Linked DNA regions of Homo sapiens. The protein of the gene in region 1 purifies or fractionates together with the protein of each later gene. This does not show direct contact. Each region holds a gene or a part of one and is shown on either strand. Other genes may lie near its edges. The genes, in order: NOD1, CASP2 and CASP9.

Evidence for each region.
Region 2: the proteins of NOD1 (region 1) and CASP2 purify together in Homo sapiens (affinity purification with western blotting, with the first as the bait; one study listed by BioGRID). This does not show direct contact.
Region 3: the proteins of NOD1 (region 1) and CASP9 purify together in Homo sapiens (affinity purification with western blotting; one study listed by BioGRID and IntAct). This does not show direct contact.

The regions. Positions count from the first base shown.
Region 1 is NC_000007.14:30,458,206-30,461,856, reverse strand, and holds part of NOD1 (nucleotide-binding oligomerization domain-containing protein 1), read left to right. Parts: intron 1-1,815; 5' UTR 1,816-1,956; intron 1,957-2,616; 5' UTR 2,617-2,705; intron 2,706-3,651. UniProt on the Homo sapiens protein: Pattern recognition receptor (PRR) that detects bacterial peptidoglycan fragments and other danger signals and thus participates in both innate and adaptive immune responses.
Region 2 is NC_000007.14:143,301,837-143,305,487, reverse strand, and holds part of CASP2 (caspase-2 isoform 1 preproprotein), read right to left. Parts: intron 1,705-3,651; coding exon 1,555-1,704; intron 815-1,554; coding exon 705-814; intron 549-704; coding exon 417-548; 3' UTR 1-416. UniProt on the Homo sapiens protein: Is a regulator of the cascade of caspases responsible for apoptosis execution. Might function by either activating some proteins required for cell death or inactivating proteins necessary for cell survival.
Region 3 is NC_000001.11:15,517,701-15,521,351, forward strand, and holds part of CASP9 (caspase-9 isoform alpha precursor), read right to left. Parts: intron 696-3,651; coding exon 410-695; intron 1-409. UniProt on the Homo sapiens protein: Involved in the activation cascade of caspases responsible for apoptosis execution. Binding of caspase-9 to Apaf-1 leads to activation of the protease which then cleaves and activates effector caspases caspase-3 (CASP3) or caspase-7 (CASP7).

The DNA.
Region 1 (3,651 bases):
TGAGGCAGGAGAATGGCGTGAACCCGGGAGGCGGAGCTTGCAGTGGGCCAAGATTGTGCCACTGCACTCCCGCCTGGGTGACAGAGCGAGACTCCGTCTCAACAACAACAACAACAACAACAAAGATCATTCCTGGCATCAGTATTTCAAATGGAAGGGCAGCAGGCAGGAACTCTGATGTCTCAACACCCTAGCTTTTAGTGATTGCCCTGGAGTGGCACTGTCCACTTGAGTAGCCCCTGGCCGCATGTGGCTCTTGAGCACTGGAAATGTGGTTGATCCAAACTGAGATGTGCGATTAAAACACATGCCAGGTTTCCAAGCCATAGTATGAAGAAAAAGAATGTAAACTATCTCATTAATAAATTTTTTGTTGATGGGCTGGGTGCAGTGGCTCACACCTGTAATCCCAGCACTTTGGGAGGCTGAGGTGGGAGGATCACTTGAGGCCAGGAGTTCAAGACCAGCCTGGGCAATATGATGAAACCCTGTCTCTACTAAAAATACAAAAAGTAGCCAGGCATGGGGGTGTGCACCTGTAATCCCAGCTACTTAGGAGGCGGAGGCAGGAGAATTGCTTGAACCTGGGAGGCGGAGGCTGCAGTGAGCCGAGATTGCGCCACCGCACTCCAGCCTGGGCGACAGAGTGAGTGAGACTTCATCTCAAAAAATAATAATAAATAAATTTTGTATGGATGACATACTGAAATATTTTGAGTGTATTAGAATTAAAATATATCATTGAAATTAATTTCACCTGTCCATTTTTACTTTTATTAGTGTGGCTATTAGAAAGTTTTAAATTACTAGGAAAGCTGTGTCATATTTCAATTCAACAGAGCTGCTCTATGGTCTCCTTTTTCCCTTTGAAGATCCGCCATCCTGCAATCCCTGCTTCCTTTTCACCAGAGCAGCTTCCCTGAATCTTCTCCTGGAGGCTCTGCAGACCTTTTCTTTAGTTTGGAAGATCACATTGCAGGAGGGGACTTGGGCACTGGTTTCTGTGAGGAGCCCGGAGTGGTGAATTGCCCCTGGGATTCCCTTACCCTGGAAACTAACCCTCTCTGAGGGCAGAAAGCTAGAAAGAAGAGCGGTTGAGAGGAAATGCCTGTGCAACCCCCAGCTCCCTTCGGGGCTCCCTCACTGCCCACAGGCTCTACCCCCACCTGCCTTTGCCTCAGGAGATGGCTTTTGGTGGTGGACTCACCCTCCTCCGATCTCCTCTGCTTCATTTTTCCACTTGGTGATCCATCTTTTGTTCTGCGGTGTGTCCTGTTTTCTGGCTGCCTCCATTAGCTTGGTTTTTTCCTTTGGGTATCCCTGGAGCTGTCTTACCAGGATCTCCAACTTCAGTCCCCATTGGTCTGCACCACTGGCCTGGGAAAGCTCCACCCAGGAGAGCAGACCCAGCTCCCAGATACCTGGCCCCAGCCCAATCTCCGTCCTCTCTTTGCCTGGAAGAGAGGACCAGACCGTCTTCATCAACTGGACCCACCCTTTACCAAGCAAAGAAAGGAAAGGATTGCCCCCCAGGGCCAGCAGATCTCTGGCTGTCTGGTGTTTCTGGTAATAAGTGCCCATGAACTTCGAATTGATCTCCAGTCTCCCATGGTATGGTTTTGGTCTACCCTTAGATTCTGTTTACCAAGGCAGAGTTCAGTTTCTCTGCTTTCCCTTCCAACATCCATACCTTGTTAAGTTCTTGCTGAATTGAGCTAACTCTGCACACCTGATTAAATCTTCAGCCAGGGCTCTGGACATTATAAAGCAGCCTCCTTGCCAGATGGCTGTCATATAATATATTGCTTTATTTAGGTGATTGTAAGTCAGGAGACTTTCCTTCGGTTTCTGCCTTTGATGGCAAGAGGTGGAGATTGTGGCGGCGATTACAGAAAACATCTGGGAAGACAAGTTGCTGTTTTTATGGGAATCGCAGGCTTGGAAGAGACAGAAGCAGTGAGTAAAACGGGCCCCTCGTGGTAGGCGGGCAAAGGTCGGGAAAGGAGGGATGAAGGAAGCTGTGCAACACCCCTTCCCAGCTTTCTAAAGAATGGAGCATGGCATTGCAAAATGCTGAATCACAAAGTGAGAAGTGACTTCTTTCCAGTTTTCTCTCAGCCTTGTGATGATCTTAAAGAGAAAGTCTCAATTCTGTGCTACTGTGTCTTTAACATCTCTCAAATGCTTCCGAGAGAAAACAGGCCCCAACCCTGGAGCCTTTCCAGGCAGCAGGACTAGCTGGAATACAGTAACATTGTGGTATTTCTGGTGAATTAATTTTTGTGTTACTTTCTATGTATTGCAAAGGATATTTTTTTTCTGTTTCTAATGGTGACATTACATTCCTTTAAAATTATTAGAGTTTTCAAAACTCAATTGAAAGCAAAAGGTTAAGCAAATAAAGGACAGGTGTGACTCAATTATGGCAAGAACAACAAAAAAGTGACTATGGTGGGGACGTTGAACATTTAGAAAACACTGTCCTAAAAGAAGAAGGTACAGAGAGTAGTCTGATACCTGGGAGTACTAGATTTTAAAATTATTCTCTTGCCAATTTTATTCATTCATTCACCATGTGCCACAATAATTTTTTTAAGTCTTTCTTTGATTTTGCAGATTCCAGAAATAAATTGGAAATTGAAGATTTAAACAATGTTGTTTTAAAATATTCTAACTTCAAAGAATGATGCCAGAAACTTAAAAAGGTATTATTAACTGCTAATTTAAATTTAATATTGTCAGCTGGTATGCTTTAAATGAACCGATTTTCTAAAGCTAAGGATCCTAAAGTGGGTCATAGAATTGACTGCCATGGAAAATAGCCGGGTGTGGTGGCTCACACCTGTAATCCAAGCACTTTGGGAGGCCGAGGTGGGCAGATCACTTGAGGTCAGGAGTTCAAGACCAGCTTGGCCAACGTGGTGAAACCCTGTCTCTACTAAAAATACAAAAATTAGCTGGGCATGGTGGCACCCGCCTGTAGTTCTAGCTACTCGGGTGGCTGATGCAGGAGAATTGCTTGAGCTCAGGAGGCAGATGTTGCAGTGAGCCGAGATTGTGCCACTGCACTCCAGCCTGAGCCACACAGTGGGACTCTGTCAAAAAAAAAAAAAAAAGAAAAGGCTGGATTAGTATTTAATAACTTTTATTGGAACAATAACTAATATTTTCATACCTTTAAATTTTTTTGGTGAGGATCTCTTGCCCTTCTGTTGCTGATAATTTTAAATTTTACTCTTTCCTGCTCTATCATTTGGATTCTAAAAAGAAAGCTATTGTGTGGGGTCTGGCATTTGATAGGTTAAAAAAAGAAAACATAGAAGCATGTCAAAGAGCAGGAGACTCATGTGCCACTTGGTGGAAAAAAAATTGAGAACCACTGGACCTGAATGTTAACAGATGTGGCTTGTGAAACATATTAATGATGTGGATAGTGTTAAAAGATCTATGAGCTTTTTTTTGAACTACAAAAAAACCTTTTTTTTACTCTCTCTCTGAAATGCATGAGTTTTCCTGCCTAGACAAACGACAAAGTGGCCAATTCCAGGCCTTTCCACTTCCAAGATCATTTTACACACGCAAGTATTCCTGGACAAGAAGAGGCTGAAGGATCTTCTGTGGGATTTTTTTAAAAAATTATTATTTTTTGCT
Region 2 (3,651 bases), about 110 Mb from region 1:
AATAAAAGATAGGAGATGGTCTCTCAGACATCTTAACTAATGTAATAAAAGCAATCACTAAAGTGCCATCTACAAAAGCTGGAACTGAACACAAATATGGGGAATTTATATGCCCTCTCCCCATAACCACACTGTGTTTACAACTTCACTTGTCAGGCTCTTCAACTGCAGCTGAAACATTCCTGGCAATAGGTCCAACCAAGGCTGGCTCTACAGGCAAAGGGCTTCACAGAAAAGGAGCTGGCCTGGAGTCCCACACTCAAAGGCAGAGATGATGGGCACAGGAAACAAGTCTGGGAGATTCCCACATCCCTGAGGGGGCAGAACAGAAACCGTGCATCCTGAAGATCAAAGGCTCTATCACACCTCCTGTGGTCCAGTGGCTTCCACTTGGCGTGGATGATGGGGAGGTGACATCATGTGGGAGGGTGTCCTGGGAACAGGTAGAGGTGGCGGCACAGAGTGCTGCAGTATTCAGACATCTCCTTGCACCGGTGGAATTCTGTGCCAGGAGCATAACCTTCCCGATCCTTGATAAGTGCGTTCACCTGGAGGGGCAGAACCAATAGGCCCAAGTCTGAGAATCTCGGGCTTCAGGAGAGCAGCAAACGGGAAGGGGAGACGGACTATGAAAGAGCATTCAAGAGAGGAGGAAAGTAGAGCACTGTGGAGACACACAGGGGTCACGGAGCCCGCTGGCTCACCTTAACCAGCATGTCGGCCACGTGCATATCACAAGCCCGCTCAGAAAACACTTGAGCAAGAGCCTCGATGTACCAGGAACCTCGTTTGGTGTTCCGCATGGCGGCAGTCCCTGCAACCAAAAGGGCATTAATCACAGTGTGAATGCCATCACACAGCTGCACTTCCCAAACTAGACTCGGCCATGACACCTGCACCCTCCCTAGTCAGAGAACCCAGCATGAAGAATCTAAGTCTAGGAGGGTACTCTTTTGGATTATTGGCATACTTTGGAGATACCGTAGGTCTGTTTCCAGACCAGCTTAAGAAAGTGAATATGGCAATAAAGCAAGTCATACAAATTTTCAGGTCTCCCAGTGTATACGGAAGTTATGGTTACTATCCTACAGTCTATTAAGTGTGCAACAACATTATGTCTAAAACATGCATATGCTGTAATTAAAACATACTTTATTGCTGAAAAATGCTAACAGAGGCATGCCAATAGAAAAATGGTGCTGACAGATGCTCAAAGGATTGCCACAAACCTTCAATTTGTAAAAAGCAGCTGAGCATCCCAAATCCAAAAAATCTGAAATGCTTCAAAATCTGAAACTTTCCAAGTGCCAATATGATGCTCAAAGAAGGTGCTCATGGGAGTGTTTTAAATTTAGAATATTTGGATACGGGATACTCAACTAGTAAGTATAACGCAAATATTCCAAAATCCAAAAAAACAAAAAAATCCAAAATCTGAAACACTTCTGGTTCCAACACTTCAGATAAGGGATACTCAACCTGTACCTGCAAAGCACAATAAAGCAAAGTGCAACAAAATGAGGTATGACTCAACTCTTTTGGAACTCAAAGTACCTTTGAGGCAGGCATAGCCGCATATCATGTCTGAGCGCGTGGGCAGTCTCATCTTCGGCAACTTTTCTTTACCGGCATCACTCTCCTCGCACCCAGGGGATCCTGCGTGGTTCTTTCCATCTTGTTGGTCAACCCCACGATCAGTCTCATCTGTAACAAAGGCAGACAGAATGGACAATGATGTTACTTCTTCCTATCTCTCTTGGGCCTGTCACAGGCAAGCCCACGTTCCCTACAACCTTGAAGGGGAAGAGCCATTTCCAGCTGTTGCCTCCAACCTATGGCTGATAAACTAAAAAAAAAAAAAAAAAATTATTACTCTCTCAGCATGCATCTGTTACTCAGGGGATGCCTCATACACACCGGGCACCACGCTCAAGCACATGCACATCTATGCGGTTGGAGCAGTTCCCATTCTGTGTAAGACAGGGAAAATGCCAAATCAAATACTCCTTGTAAATGGAACTGAAAATCATCTAAGTCCACAACTCACTTGTTCAATTAACAATATGCCTGGGAGTCACAGTGCTTTTTATTGCAATACATAATAAAATATTGATATATTTAATTACATAAACAAGAAAAAACAAGGTAATAAATAACAAATACGGTTACCATATGTATGCTATATAAAAATCACAACCTCGAACTATGTATCAAAAAATAATAAAACTAAGTATGATCAGTTGTTTCCAAGGTGGTTTTGATATCTTCGAAGCACTATGTTTATTAATTTCATAAGATAAATTATAGCAAGCATCCAAGATTTAAGAAAAAAAATTTTTAATTTATTTTTTAAAATAACTTTTTAAATCTTTTTTTTTCTTTTTTTAATAGAGATGGGGTCTTGCTACGTTGACCAGGCTTGTCTTGAACTCCTGGCTTCAAGTGATCCTTCTGCCTCGGCCTCCCAAAGTGTTGGGATTATAGGCATGAGTCACTGCACCTGGCCTTATGAAAATTTTAAGAGGAAAAACTTAAAGTGGGGAGAACTTGACTGTTTTCTCCCAGAAAATTTAAAAAGATCATCCTTATTCAATTTTAGCAGTAATTTCTCAACATACCCTGAGCAGATCCTTGCTCTTGATACAAGCCTTATGTATCCCAAGACAGACTCTTATTTTTGATGATGTTGTTTTATTTTGGGTGTGGGCAGGGGTGCTGTCAGTAGGCAAGACAGATGGGGAGGACTCTCAGGTCAACACATCAAAAGTAAGAGTATGCTCTTTTACAGTACTTCCTGATCCATGCAATGTCGAGGGAGCCTAGGAAAGAAGGGAAGCTTCAAGAATTGGGGGAAAAGGACCAAAGCACAGGTTTAATAAAAATGTGTCAAGCAACTGCCATGTGTTGGGCACTGTCTTACTTTAAGGCCTAGGGATAGAGTGAAGAGAAAATTCCTGCCGTCATGGAGCTTACACTCCAGTTTAGAAGCTGACTGGGGCAGGGGGGTGGAGCTTTTTCTAGACATTAATTATATTAACCAAATACAGCAGGAAGACAGGTGAACTCAAATTTTCAATGGAACAATTGGCTACTGGTCATTCCTTGAAGGATTTAATTTCAGAAAAGTTAGAGAGACAGAGCAAAAGATCCAGATTACTCCAGAAAAGAGCAATTACTCCTTATCCAGATCCAATAGTGTATTAAATCCCTGGATATAGGATGAGAAAATCACAATTTAACGTCGTTTTGTTAGTAAAGACGCCTAAAGGAAACAGGCCAAGCTAAAGAGAAAGGAGAATTCCTCTCTCACCTTTATATCACAGATCCATCAATCAATAAATGTCACTGGTTCTTTTGTCACAATATCCTCATATTTGTTTTTTACATAATACCTACAGTTTTTCAGGCAGATTAATTTTCATCCATTCATTGAACATTTATAAGTGCTACCATGCATCAGGCAGTGCCCTGGGCCTGGGGATAGAGCAGGGAATGAAAAGTAAAGTTGCTGACCCATAACCTCTTTCCTTAGTGCAGCCCCCTCCATGGCAACCTTGCTGGAAAAACAATTCATCACATTATTTCTTACTTAAGCTCCCAACTGTTCCTTACTTTTACCTGCTGATGTCCAAAACCTCAGTTATGACTAAA
Region 3 (3,651 bases), on another chromosome or scaffold:
GCAGATGTCTGTTTGTATGGGGCAGATACAACTGAGGCCTGTCTCCTGCCCCCAGACATGAGGTAGTCCAGGCTACCCACCCAGACTGAAAGGCAAATCCAAAACAATAGATGGCTCTGGAAACATTGATCAAAACCTGGGGCCTGCTATCTCAAAGGCAGGAAAAAAAACAAAAACAAAAACAAAAAACCTGGGACATCCAAAACAGACCTCAACACATGCTTTTCAGAGGAGGGGCTGCCAAGATTCAACCTCCTGAAAACCTCCCAGAATTTTGCCATCCCTATGAACATTCAGAAAGACAATGCTAAAATTAAATTCTGAATCTCAGCCCACCCAGCTGTACTCATAGTGAGTCCCAAATGACTACGTGTCATGCCCACCCACCAATCACTCTCTTGCTACTTACCGACATCACCAAATCCTCCAGAACCAATGTCCACTGGTCTGGGTGTTTCCGGTCTGAGAACCTCTGGTTTGCGAATCTCTGGTCTGAGCACCACTGGGGTAAGGTTTTCTAGGGTTGGCTTCGACAACTTTGCTGCTTGCCTGTTAGTTCGCAGAAACGAAGCCAGCATGTCCTGGCCTGTGTCCTCTAAGCAGGAGATGAACAAAGGAAGAGCCTGACTCCCTCGAGTCTCCAGATCTATGATCAGCTGCCTGGCCTGATCCCGCCGAGATCCAGAGCCTGCCCGCTGTTTGGAAAGAAAGGCAGGATACTAATTATCCACGTACTTTTATATGGCTCTCACCTTGTCTCCCCATTTCCCAGCTACTGTAAGTCTAAACAATCAGGCACGTGGGCAGCAATGGAGCTGCAGGTGCACTGTGTGCCATTTACCAGCCTTTGCTGATCTGTTCATTATTTTGCAGGGCAAAAGATGCCCAGCACTATGCTAAGTGCTGAAAATGCTGCCATGGACAGTCTCAGTCCTTAAGGAGCAAATTTCTAATGGGGAATGCAATCAGACAAATCAGCAATGACACAACAAGAGACAAGTGCCCAGAGGGAAGCACATGGGGCTGAGGATATCATGAAGTGAATAGCGAATTCAGAGTCTTATGAGGTGGGAGGTAGATAGTGGCAAGGGACAAGGCCTTTGTGTGGCCAGGCCAAGAAATTCATCCTGAGACCTGTCAGGTGCCACCAAAGAGTTTTTTGGTTTTGTTTTTGTTTTTTTTTTTTTTTCTTGAGACGGAGTCTCACTCTGTCACCCAGGCTAGAGTGTACTGGTGCAATCTCAGCTCACTGCAACCTCCAACTCCAAGGTTCAAGCGATTATCCTGCCTCAGCCTCCGGAGTAGTTGGGGTTACAGGCACACACCACCATACCTGACTAATTTTTTTTTTATTTTTAGTAGAAACAGGGTTTCACCATGTTGCCCAGGCTGGTCTTGAACTGACCTCAAGTGATCCTCCAGCCTTGGCCTCCCAAAGTGCTGGGATTATAGGCATGAGCCACCGTGGCCAGCCATCGGTTGTTTTTTTGTTTGTTTTTTGAGGAGTCTTGCTCTGTCACCCAGGCTGGAATGCAGTGGCACCATCTCAGCTCACTGCAACCTCCACCTTTTGGGTACAAATGATTCTCCCACATCAGCCTCCCAGGTAGCTGGGACTACAGGCACCCACCACCATGCCTGGCTAATGTTTGTATTTTTTGGTTAAGACAGGGTTTCACCATGTTGGCCAGGCTGGTCTCAAAACTCCTGACCTCAAGCGATCCACCAACCTCAGCCTCTCAAAGTGCTAGGATTACAGGCGTGAGCTACCATGCCCGGCCACCAAAGAGTTTTAAGAATGGAGTGACAGAGACAGATATGGCCTTTCAAAAAGTCATCCAGGGGTCAGGGTGAAAAATGGAAAGGAGTGAGCCATAGCCAGATCAGGAGGCAGCAAAGATGGTGCAGCTAGAATAGAGAGAAGTGAAAGGACAAAGCAGAGATACAAAGAGAGAGGGTCCATAGGACATGGGCACTGACTGGGGGGACTGTGAAGACAGAGCAAGGGTCAAGGTTGACAGGCAGGCCAGGCACAGTGGCTCATGCTTGCAATTCCAGCACTTTGGGAGGCTGAAGTGGGAGGATAGCTTGAGCCCAGTTCGAGACCAGCCTGGACAACACAGTGAGACCCTGTCTCTACAAAAAATAACAAAAAAAAAGCCAGGTATGGTGTCACGCACCTGTAGTCCCAGCTACTCAGGAGGCTGAGGCTCCCAAGAGGATGGCTCGAGCCCAGGAGATAAGGCTGCAGTGAGCTGTGATAGCACCACTGCACTTCAGCCTGGGTGACAGAGCAAGACCCTGTCTCAAAAAAAAAAATTGAGAGGTGTCAGGATGGTGGGGTCAGTCACTAAGAAGGAAGAGTCTGGTTATCTGCCACCTGTCCTCAGATACCCAGCACTGGACAGGTTCTCAGGATCCACAGGGATAAGATGGCACCGTGTCCTCAACTATCCTACAGCAGCACTGTCTATGAGAACCTTCCGTGATGATGGAAATATTCTTGGTCTGTATTGTCCTATTTAGTAACCATATATCACATGACCATTAAGCACTTGGGTAGTACAACTGAGGAACTGAATTTTTGTGGGCGAAAGATTACCCAGGTGCCGAGGCAAGAGACTGAAGCCACAAACTGTTTCAGTATAATAAAGAAAATAGTTAGAATAAGAATAGTCATAATACAAATTAGGTATAGAGATGATCATGGACAATTATCAATCATTATTATAAACATTATTAATCATTAGCTTTTAATATTACTCTTTGTTGCATTGCTAATATAACTTAGGAATAACCGGCGGGTATAGGGTCAGGTGCTGAAGGGACATTGTGAGAAGTGACCTAGAAGGCAAGAGGTGAGCCCTCTGTCAGGCCCGCATAAGGGCCGCTTGAGGGCTCCTTGGTCAAGCGGTAATGCCAGTGTCTGGGGAGACACCCATTACTTAGCAGACCGCGAAGGGGAGTCTCCTGCCAGGCGCGGTGGCTCACGCCTGTAATCCCAGCACTTTGGGAGGCCAAGGCAGGCAGATCACAAGGTTAGGAGTTCAAGACCAGCCTGACCAACACGGTGAAACCCGTCTCTACTAAAAATACAAAAAAATTAGCTGGGCGTGGTAGTGCGCACCTGTAATTCCAGCTACTCAGGAGGCTGAGGCAGAACAGCTTGAACCCTGGCTGGGCGCGGTGGCTCAAGCCTGTAATCCCAGCACTTTGGGAGGCCAAGGTGGGCAGATCACGAGGTCAGGAGATCGAGACCATCCTGGCTAACACGGTGAAACCCCATCTCTACTAAAAATACAAAAAATTAGCCGGGCGTGGTGGCGGGTGCCTGTAGACCCAGCTACTCGGGAGGCTGAGGGAGGAGAATGGCATGAACCCGGGAGGCGGAGCTTGCAGTGAGCCGAGATTGCGGCACTGCACTCCAGCCTGGGCGACAGAGCGAGACTCCGTCTCAAAAAAAAAAAAAAAAAAAAGGAAAATAGCTTGAACCCGGAAGGTGGAGGTTGCAGTGAGCTGAGATCGTACCATTGCACTCCAGCCTGGGCGAAAAAGTGGGACACCACCTCAAAAAAAAAAAAAAAAGAAAGGGAGTCTCCTTTCCTTGGAGGCGTCAGGGAGCACTCTGCTCCACCAGCTTCTTGTGGGAGG